3 linked regions of the Homo sapiens genome follow. The protein of the gene in region 2 purifies or fractionates together with the protein of the main gene of each other region. This does not show direct contact. Each region holds a gene or a part of one and is shown on either strand. Other genes may lie near its edges. The genes, in order: ZNF346, ZC3H4 and KSR2.

Region 1 (3,650 bases), on a different chromosome or scaffold from region 2:
AAAGACTGATAATACTGAGCAACTTTTCAGGGGCTGACTACCCATTTGTAGATCTTTGGTGAAATATCTATTCACATCATTTGCCTATTTTGTAATTGGGCTGTTTGTCTTCTACTGAGTTGTAAGAGTTATCTGTGTATTCTGGGTACAAGTCTTTTATTATAGATATGATTTCCAGGTATTTCCCCCTGACTGTGACTTGTTTTTTCATTTTCTAAACAGTGCCTTTTGAAGCACAAAAGTTTTAAGTTTTGATGAGATTAAATTTATCATTTTTTATCCTATGTATTGTGCTTTAGTGTCATATCTAAGAACTCTTTATCTTAACCCAAGATTTGAGAAATTTTCTCTTGTAGATCTTCCTTATTATTATTATTATTTTTTTTTTTGAGATGCAGTCTCACCCTGTCACCCAGGCTGGAGTGCAGTGGCATGATCTCAGCTCACTGCAACCTTCGTCTCCCTGGTTCTCCTGGAGGAGGTCAAGCGATTCTCCTGCCTCAGCGTCCCGAGTAGCTGGGATTACAGGTGTTCACCACCACATCTGGCTAATTTTTGTATTTTTAGTAGAGATGGGGTTTCACCACGTTGGCCAGGCTGGTCTCAAACTCCTGACCTCAAGTGATCTGCCCCCTTCAGCCTCCCAAAGTGCTGGCATTACACGCGTGAGCTACCATGCCCAGCCCCTTCCTCATCTTGTTTCTGAAGGAGTTTGTGAAGGATGGATTGGTAATTTTTTTTTTTTTTTTTTTTTTTTTGAGACAGAATCCCACTCTATCGCCCAGGCTAGAGTGTGGTGGCACGATCTCAGCTCACTGCAGCCTCCCTGTCCCAGATTTAAGTGATTCTCCCGCCTCAGCCTCCTGAGTAGCTGGGATTACAGGAGGGTGCTACCACACCCAGCTAATTTTTTTGTATTTTTAGTAGAGACAGAGTTTCACCATGTTGGCCAGACTGGTCTTGAACTCCTGACCTCAGGTGATCCACCAGCCTTGGCCTCCCGAAGTGTTGGGATTACAGGTGTGAGCCACCACACTCAGTTGGTAATATTTCTTTTTACAGTATTTTATAGAAGTGTTGACCTGCAAGGAAGAGGCTAACACACAAAATATGATTTGAAGAGTTTACTTGATTTTTAAAGGCAAAAAAATGTGGACAGGGAGTGGGACTCATACAAAGTTGTTTATCAAGAATTCTCATTGATTTACAGAAATAACATTGGTTAGTGATTGGCTGTACATTAAGCTGTAGGATGTAGGATATAGCGTCAGGTAGGGCATTATTAGGTTAATCCTTACCCACTTGTGGCAATAGCAAGCAGTTTTGATAGATGAATCTTAGCTCAAAAAGGGAGAATAGGAAGTGATTGCTATCTCATTTTAATATCTCTCTGGGCCCTGATCATTTAAAAAAACTTGGATTCTTTAGATAAAAGTTATCTTCTTTTTTTTCAGACAGAGACTCACTCTTCCGCCCAGACTGGAGTGCAGTGGTGTGATCTCGGCTCACTGCAACCTTTGCCTCCCGGGTTCAAGCGATTCTCGTGCCTCAGCCTCTCAGGTAGCTGGGATTACAGGCGCCTGCCAGCACACCCAGCTAATTTTTGTATTTTTCGTAGAGACGGAGTTTCACCATGTTGGTCAGGCTGGTCTCAAACTCCTGACCTCAGGTGATCCGCCTCAGCCTCCCAAAGTGCTGGGATTACAGGGGTGAGCCATCACGCCCAGCCGATAAAAGTTATTTTCTGACCTGCCTGGGCAACGTGGAGAAACCCTGTAAATTTTTGTAAAATTTGTGTTTTTGTAAAAATACAAACATTAGCCAGGTGTGGTGGCTCACATCTGTAATCCCAGCTACTCAGGTGGCTGAGGCACGAGAATCGCTTGAACCCAGGAGGCTAAGGTTGCAGTGAGCCGAGATTGTGCCACTGCACTCCAGTCTAGGCAACACAGTTGAGACTTTGTCTCAAAAAAAAAAAAAAAAAAAAGTTATCACCAGTGAAGCTACCTGGGCCTAAGCTTTTCTTTCTTCCTTTCCTTTTTTTTTTTTTAAATTCTCTATTTATTTATTTAGAGACAGGGTCTCTGTTGCCCAGGCTAGAGTGCAGTGGCACAATCATAGCTCACTGCAGCCTCAGACTCCTTCAAACTCAAAGCTAGGACTGCAAGGGCATACCACCATGCCCAGCTAATTTTTGTGTTTTTTTAAATAGAGGGTCTTGCTCTGTTGCCCAGGCTGGTCTGAAACTCCTGGCCTCTAGTGATCCTCCTGCCTCAGCCTCCCAAAGGGTTAGGATTATAGGCAAGCATGCGCCATGGCACCCAGCTGGCTTCGGCTTTTCTTTGTGGAAAGGTATTTGATTATTCATTTTCTTTACTTGTTTTAAGTGTACACAGAATATTTTGTTTCTCCTTGTGTCACTTTTTTTTTTTTTTTTTTTTTTTTTTTTTTTTGAGACGGGGTCTTGCCAGGCTGGAGTGCAGTAATGATCACTGCAGCCTTCGCCTCCCAGGTTCAAGCAATTCTCCTGCCCCAGCCTCCCGAGTAGCTGGGATTACAGGCATGTGTCACCATGCCCGGCTAACTTTTTTGTATTTTTAGTAGAGACGGGGTTTCACTGTGTTGGCCAGGCTGGTCTTGAACTCCTCGAACTCTAAAGTGATCTGTCCGCCTCTGCTTTCCCAAAGCACTGGGATTACAGATGTGAGGTCCCTGATTATTTTCTTGGTTAGTCTAGCTAAGAATTTGTCATTTTCTTGATCTTTTCTAGTTTCTAAGGTAAGATCTTATGTTGCTGATTTGAGTGATTTGAGATCCTTCTTTTCTGATGTAGATGTTTAAAATTATAAATTTCTCTCTTAAGCACTTGTGACGTTTTATATATATATATATATATATATATTTCCCTCCATAGTTCCTGGCTCACAGCTTCTATAACCCTTGTACTTTCCTCAGTGACTAAAGCAGTAAGAGTATCTTCTGTTAAAATATTTGGCCTTTTGTCCTTGCTTCCTGAAACACCTCTGGAACTGCTCCAGAGCAAGAAAGGTGAAAAACAGACTTTTGTTATTTATAACAAGCCCCTTTCTTTTTTTTTTTTTTTTTTTTTTTTTTTTATGAGATGGAGTCTCGCTCTGTTGCCCAGGCTGGAGTGCAGTGGTGCGATCTCGGCTCACTGCAAGCTCCGCCTCCCAGGTTCATGCCATTCTCCTGCCCCAGCCTCCCAAGTAGCTGGGACTATAGGCGCCCACCACCACACCTGGCTAATTTTTTGTATTTTTAGTAGAGACGGGGTTTCACCATGTTAGCCAGGCTGATCTCGATTTCCTGACCTCGTAATCTGCCCTCCTCGGCCTCCCAAAGTGCTGGGATTACAGGCGTGAGCCACCGCACCCGGCCATATAACAAGCCCCTTTCAGCCACACCTTGGTACATGTTAATAGGGTGATTTTTGAGAAGTCCCTAGATTACCACATTCTGGTTGGCTGGTTGCCATAGGAACCAACCATGTGCTCAGAGGCTTGGAAGTTACAGCCCCCCATCTTGAGAGGGTAGAAAGGAGCTGAAGGTTGAATTGATCACCGATAGCCAGTGATTTAATCAACCATGCCTATGTAATGAAGCCTTCATAACAACCCAAAGACCTCAGT
Region 2 (3,650 bases):
CAGGCTTGCCCTAACAAGAGGAGCCTGGCTGGGCCCAGGACAGCGCCCACTGCCTGTCACGGGGGTCCAGGGCACTCACCTCACACCCAGCTTCTCAGCCAGCTGTCCCGTGGGCCGCACCACGATCTCAAACAAGGAGGGGATCTTCTTGTTGTACATGTCCTGCTGCTGCAGCTGCTGCGGGGACAGTGGCTCATGCACCGGCATGGGCATCTGAGGGGGCCCGGGCGGTGGGGGAGGGGGAGGGGGCGGGGGCGGGGGGCCACCCTGCATGGGCCTGCCGTTGGGAGAGGTTGGAGCCTGCGGGCCAGGGGGCCGAGGAGGGGTGGGCAGGAGGCCCACACCAGGGGGCGGTTTGGGCAGGGGGTTGATGCCCTGCTTCTTCAGTTCCTCCACCTCCTTCTCATCCTCGGCACCTGCTTCTGCATCATCGGCCAACATCTGCGGGTGTGAAAGAACAAAAGAAGGTGTGGACGGGGTCAGGATGGAAACGGACCTCTCCAGGTCTGAGAGCTGAAGTTTATGAGGAAAAGTCCATAATACAAGGACCTTGAGATCTAAAGGCATAAAGACCACAATGGCTCTGTAACAAAAATCATCATCAGCCACCTCTCTGCTCCACTCTCGGGGACCAGCTGGTAGAGGGGGGGCCATTCCTGCTCTATGGCAAAATACACATAACAAAGCATACTGTTTAACCATTTAAAGTGAACGATTCAGCTGGGCGCAGGGACTCACATCTGTAATCCCAGCACTTTGGGAGGCCGAGGTGGGTGGATCACTTGAGGCCAGGAGTTCAAGACCAGTCTGGCCAACATGGCAAAACCCCATCTCTACTAAAAATACAAAAATTAGCCAGGCATGGTAGTGCACGCCTGTAGTCTCAGCTACTCGGGAGGCTGAAGCAGGAGAATCACTTGAACATGGGAGGCAGAAGCTGCAGTGAGCCAAGATCGCACCACTGCACCCCAGCATGGACAACAGAGGAGACTCTGTCTCAAAAATAAATAAATAATGCCAGACGTGGTGGCTCATGCTTGTAATCCCAGCACTTTGGCAGGCTGAGGTGGGCAGATCACCTGAGGTCAGGAGTTTGAGGCCAGCCTGGCCAACATGGTGAAACCCCATCTCTACTAAAAATACAAAAAAAATAGCCGGGCATGGTGGTGGGCACCTGTAATCCCAGCTACTCAGGAGGCTGAGGCAGAAGAATCGCTTGAACCTGGGAGGCGGAGGTTCCAGTGAGCCGAGATCACACTACTGCACTCCAGCCTGAGCGACAGAGCCAGACTCCATCTCAAAAAACAAAAACAAAACAAAGTGAACGATGCAGTGGCATTTGGCACATTAACAATGTTATGTAACCGCCACCTCTATATAGTTCCAGCACATTTTCATCACCCCCAAAAGAGACCCTGTACACACTAAGCAATCGCTCCCCACCCTCTACCCCCAGCCCCCGGCAGCCACTCTGCTTTCCGTCTCTGCGGACCTGCCCCTGCTGGACAGCTCCTGCGAACAGACTCATGCGCTGTGTGCGATGGGCGCTTTCACTTAGCAAAGTGCATCTATCTACAACACTGCTACATCTATCAGTATGTCACTCTGTTTTTTATGGCTGAATCATATTCCCCTGTCATGTTTGGATTTTAAGGGCCTCTGATCTCAACTCCTGACCATGACCCTTAGGGCCTAAGAGCAGGGGTGGGTGTCTGGGTGTCTAGGTATCTGGGGACGACTGGGTAGCTTCCTGGCAGCTTCATTTCCTCCCACGATCCCGACTCCTCCACCCCAACCACCCAGCCTCGTTTCAGTGCAATGAGCAGCCAAGCTCTCCCCTACAGGGCCAGGACCAGCTTCCCCCAGGTTTTTATTTTTCCTGTTATTCCCATGTGGCTCAACGTCACTCAACTGTTGAGGTCCCTCATTAGATGTCAATTCATAGTGTCTGTCCAGTCTCCTGTATTCACTACTGGGTCACCAGGAGTTCTCTGCCAACACTGCCTATGCCTTGTCGGATTATTCAGTCATTCCCATGTTCATCCTGGCTCAACCTCCCCATCAACTCCAAGAGGGCAGGACTGTTTCTTCCCTGCTATATCCCCAGGGCCCCCACGAGACCTGATACAGGGCAGACGCCCAGTGAGTGAATGAGAAATGTCAAAATCTCAACTGGACTAGAATGTCTCATCAGTTAGGATAGCGTGCAGAAAAGTGACACAGGAGGCCTGGCTGCTCTCCTTGGAAGGCCTGCTTGCAAGGCTAGGCCTCGGCTGGTGTCTGGGAAGCTGCATTTTGGGAGGGCTCCCAGCATTCACTGTCCAGTAAGAGGGGCTCACTGCATCTAAACTGTTTCTGCAACCAATGCAGTTTGTGCTGAATGCCTGCTTTGCCCCCCAAATCTGGAATTTTGGTCCATGCTGGGCAGAGGCTGCCTAGGTGAGCAGCCTAGTGAAAACCCTGGGCGCTGAGCAAGTCTCCTCGCAGACAGCATGCCACTCGTGCTGTCACAACTGGAGGAGGGCAGCGTGGCCCCTGCGAGTCCACAGGAAGAGGATGCGCCTGCTTCCTCCAGGCGCCCTCATGTACTCATTCCCAGGGCTGAGTTTGCCTGTGTCCCTTCACCGCAGTTAACATCTTGGCCGTGAGTCCCCCAGCAAGTTGCTCTGGGTCATCTTGGGGACCCCAGCACAGATCCCTTAGTTGGTCCTAACACAGGGTCATCAAGATAAACTAGTCCTGCCCCTCTGCCCAGGAACAGCAAGGCGGACAGAAACAGGACCCCCTGGTGGGGGTTGTGCATTCGCAGTTTTCCCTTCTCCTAGCCATTAGCAATGGTATCTGGACCCTGGAACCCCAGGGTCCAATAAGAATGTGGCTTCATGGAGGAGGTGTGGAAAACGACGCGGTGGAACCCCTCTGTCCTTCTGAACCCTGATATTCCAGGGGTGGTCAGCGTGTGAACCAGCAGCACAGGGGGACCCGTGGAGGCAGAACCCGCATTCTGCCCTTTGAGCGTGGGCACCACCACCTGAGATGAGCCTTGCTGGGAGGGCCCAGAGCCTTGCGCCAGCTGCTTTCAACACTGCCACGGGCTCACTTCCTCCTGGCCCAAGGGCCCTTCCTCAACTGTGTGTGGGGCCATGGCTTGCGCTGCAGCTGCCACCCTGCATCTCCCTCCTCCTCCTCCTCTTCAGTCCCCACTGCCGCACATCCTGGGGCCGCCAGTGTCACCTCCTCACAAAGCCTCTTGAATGTCTGCCTCCTGAATAGAGCCCAGCTAGAGTCCTGGGCTCCCACACTTATTCTTCACGGCCTGATCCCCACGTGTGTGTGCGCACACACACATACACACACACACTCACACTCCCCATGTGTCATCAGCATCCGCCCAAGGACCTAACCCTGCCTCCTCAGCACCCCCAGTGCCTGGCACAAACAAGGCACAGAGATTTATTGAGTGAACGACTAAGCAAGGAACACAAACCAATGCATTCCCTGGAATCCAGAGGCTGGGTCCAGTGCAGAGGAGAAAGGAGCTCAGGCCCTGAATGGTTGACTCCACCATGGAGTCAACTGCGGAGTCAACCCAAACTGCCCATCGGTCCTGCCAGCACAGACCCTGTGGAGGGCACCTCTGTCCCTGGCCC
Region 3 (3,650 bases), on a different chromosome or scaffold from region 2:
AAATTCTCACTGTAGTGCTGGAGGTCAGGGTATTTTTAAACTAGAAGAACTAGCCAAGCTGGTTTTTTTTTTTTAAGTGGTGGAAAAGAAAAACTAAGATTTGTTTTTAATCATTAGACTTTCAAATTTAAGAAGGCGCGATGCAAATAGCATGTTGGCATAAACAAGTGCTGCCCGCTCAATGGAGGGAGGGAGCCTTTCTTCTGAGCTAATTTAAGCTAAATACATGGCAGCTATTTTTCATCTCTACAATTGTGCAACTTTCTCCTCAGTTTACAATACAGGGGAGATATTATCGGGCAGAAGTTGGATGGGGGATAAGTGAAGACGAGAAGGAAAAGAAGAGGCAGTGGACAAGAAGGTACTCTCAGCCACCGAGCTGGTGATTAGAGGTATTTCAAGAGCTCAGGAGTAGAGCTGGTGGTCCACTAGGACCTCAAGATCTTATCTGGGTGGAAACTTGATTTTGAGCCTTCCATTCAGGGAAGAAACCAAAGAGCAATTGGAGTCAGGCTCCTTTTCCTGCCCTTTATATGCAGCACCCCCTGACTTCCCAGAAGCCCAGACTGAACAGCAGAAATTTTACAAACCTCCTCAAGAAAGAAAAGCCCTTGCAGCTCTCCTGCACACCACCACGCACACTGTTATTCCTTAAGGCCCCCATATGCCGTGACTTCCAGCCCAGCTGTTACTAGACTGGGCATAGCATTCAGGCCTTGTGGTGAAGCCGTCCCAGAAGATAAATGATTTTTCTCCAAGCAGGCAGATTACCGAGTAGGATCATACACAGAGTCTTAGAGACAGAATCTTTCTTTCTGCATTTTCCAAGTTCCCTAACTGAGAAGAAACATCTGCAGAGCGCTGATAGACTGTCCACCAACTACAGCCCAAATGGCTTGGCTTCTGGAAGTTTCTGAGGCCTGAGTTCTAAACCTACCTCTGCCTCTTAGAAGGGACCTGACTTAGGGGAGTTTATTATAGCTTCCCTCTCTGGGCCTCAGATCCTGCTTCTGTGAAAGGAGAAGAGTGAGATAAGGGAGGGTCACTCATATCCATCTTAAGTGGTAACTCGAATGCCCTGAAGCTACATCTGTGATCAGTGGGAAGGCATGCTGTGATGGATTAGTGATGTCTGCCAAGAGTACAGCAGGGGACACTGGTGGTAGATCCATTACATATTTGTACTCCTTGGACCAGATCTTTATCCTTCTAGATCTTAGAGGTCCTTCTAGATCACCATCCCAATGACTTGGTTGAAGATGAAAACTCAGGTGAAAACTTAACCCTTCTGAGGGTGTTACATCTTATATACTTTTCACATTGGCCTCCAAGCCATGGTATGTTGGAGAAGCCACCAACACACAGCAGATTTGACCCCTCCATTGGAAGACACCATCAGCCAGATGTGGTGTTCTTGTTCATGGAACCACTGTCCACATGGATGGAATCGGGCTCTAAGCTACCTTTCTCATCTCCTAGCAGTGTCTATGAATGCTAGTGGTCAGCTCTTTTCTGTGGGCCAGTACATTGACATTGCCTCCTTCAGTACCAGGTAAGGTATCAAGTCTCATTCACAGAGGTTGACCTTGTTGGAGATTCAGAAACAAGCCTGGGAAAGCTTGGGAAGAACAGCCTCCTATCAGGCATTTAGAGATTCAACCACACAATAGTGTCTTAAAAGTTCTGATAAGTCCTGCAATCAAGAAATTAGTTTCATTTTACCTAAGCATTTCCAATGCATGCTTGTCCCAGGACCCTTTCAATAATGCAAATCCGGCGAGTTTTCCATGGAATGAAAGGTCTATGGGACATGCTTGGGAAACAAGGTCTTATTTAGATCAGGCACATTCTAGACAGAGTCCATCTCCTCCAGCTCAGTCCTCAGTGGAAGGAGGACAGCCATTCTCAACCCCATGAGATGAATCCTTCATATTCTTGGTGTTAGGAAATGGGAGCTGCATGATCCCAATGAGTGGGAAGGAAGGGCCCTTTCCCACCCCTGAGAGGGAAGAGCACTCACTGATGTACGCCTCTCAGGAACACGGGACCACAGTGCAACATCCAGCAGGAGAGACGGAGGGGATAGGAAGCCTGGAGCAGGGATACTGGAGGGACCCAGGAGGGACTCTGCCAACCCAGATGTACATTTCCTGGAAATCCGGGCTGCTGCTGGCAGCCTGTCAGTTTGAGAACATAAGTTCAAGCTTCCGTGCAAACTCCCAGTATGGTCCCTGCCAGCCCCTGCACCCTCCCTTCCACAACTTCCTGCTTTTCCTCTCTCTCTTTCCTGGTTCCAAGTTGCCAATAAGTCTCAGAGGCTGGGATTGTAACATCCCCATGAGCAGCTGGACATGAACCCCTTGACCTGGAGGTGGGTTCCTGGGAATGGATGAGCCCAAAGACTCGTTTTTAAAATGCTGGGTCTGCAATTTGGAGGCTGGTTTCTGTCCCTGTACCACAGTTGCCCCATTGGAACGAGAATAAGACTACTGATCTCCCCAAACCATCATAGGAATTCCAGCCTGGCACGTAGTAAGTGCTCTGTGAATGAGGGCTGTTCAGGGTGGATTGTTACTCTGCCTCCTAGACATCCTGGGCCACCTGACTCAATGGGTCGCTTCATACGTCACAGATATTAAACCTGGCAAACTGGCTCAGCACAATGGCTTAGCCCTGTAATCCCAGTGCTTTGGGAGGCTGAAGCAGGGGGATTGCTTGAGACCAGGAGTTCAAGACCAGCGCGGGCAACATAGCAAGACCCTGTCTGTACAACAAATAAAAAATTAGCCAGGCATGATGGTGTGCACCTGTAGTACCAGCAACTTGAGAGGCTAAGGTGGGAGGATTGCTTGTGGCCAGGAGTTCGAGGCTGCAGTGAGCTATGATCACGCTGTACTCCAGCCTGGGTGACAGAGCAAGACTCTAACTCTAAACCACAACAACAAACCTAACAAACAAACTCATTGGGGTTGATATGGCACCCACAACATGGTCTGGCAAAGGGGAATCCCAATACCATCCAGCCCTGCCAATGGTGCCCTTCTAACTCCCTGTGCCAGGGTCTTACTCTTACCCAGCAAACCTCTCTGTCTGCATTCTGTAAACATTTCTTGAGCACTTACTATGTGCCAGGCACTACTAAGACAAGTCCAGGAGGTCACTGGGACCGCAGATTTTCCATCAACCTCCTGCCCCACTACTGGTTTCAAAACTAAACTGGTAACAGAATGGGTATGGATTGCAGGGCCTCGAGAAGGGAGTCTGGGATTTGGGTTAATATCATAGTCAGGCACTGACCAGAGAGGACAGAGGTTCACTGCGGCTCCACATTCCAGGACCCAGACTGACATTTGCTGCCTGTCACTCCCCTTGGAGTTCAAAGTGATTCCCTTGCAGGTGTGTGCAGGTGAGGGTGAGGTGGTACGGGAGGAGGTGAGGCTGGGAGCCAGGGAGAGTGGCCACATGAGTCTGCCTAGGAACTTCCCCACATCACAGGCAAAGCCAAAAAAGGAAACAGCAAAATGTAGCTCATCAAAATCCACTCCTTTGTCAATGAACAAGAGTATAGATAAAATCAGATGCTGTGTCACCAACTGCTTTGGATAGGGTCATGAGGCACATTCAGGGGTCAAGTGACAGTCCGCTACAGA

What was found.
Region 1: the proteins of ZC3H4 (region 2) and ZNF346 purify together in Homo sapiens (co-immunoprecipitation; one large-scale study listed by IntAct). This does not show direct contact.
Region 3: the proteins of ZC3H4 (region 2) and KSR2 purify together in Homo sapiens (co-immunoprecipitation; one large-scale study listed by IntAct). This does not show direct contact.

Annotation. Positions count from the first base shown.
Region 1 is NC_000005.10:177,025,620-177,029,269, forward strand, and holds part of ZNF346 (zinc finger protein 346), read left to right. Parts: intron 1-3,650.
Region 2 is NC_000019.10:47,072,273-47,075,922, forward strand, and holds part of ZC3H4 (zinc finger CCCH domain-containing protein 4), read right to left. Parts: intron 442-3,650; coding exon 80-441; intron 1-79. UniProt on the Homo sapiens protein: RNA-binding protein that suppresses transcription of long non-coding RNAs (lncRNAs). LncRNAs are defined as transcripts more than 200 nucleotides that are not translated into protein.
Region 3 is NC_000012.12:117,458,343-117,461,992, forward strand, and holds part of KSR2 (kinase suppressor of Ras 2), read right to left. Parts: 3' UTR 1-3,650. UniProt on the Homo sapiens protein: Location-regulated scaffold connecting MEK to RAF. Has very low protein kinase activity and can phosphorylate MAP2K1 at several Ser and Thr residues with very low efficiency (in vitro).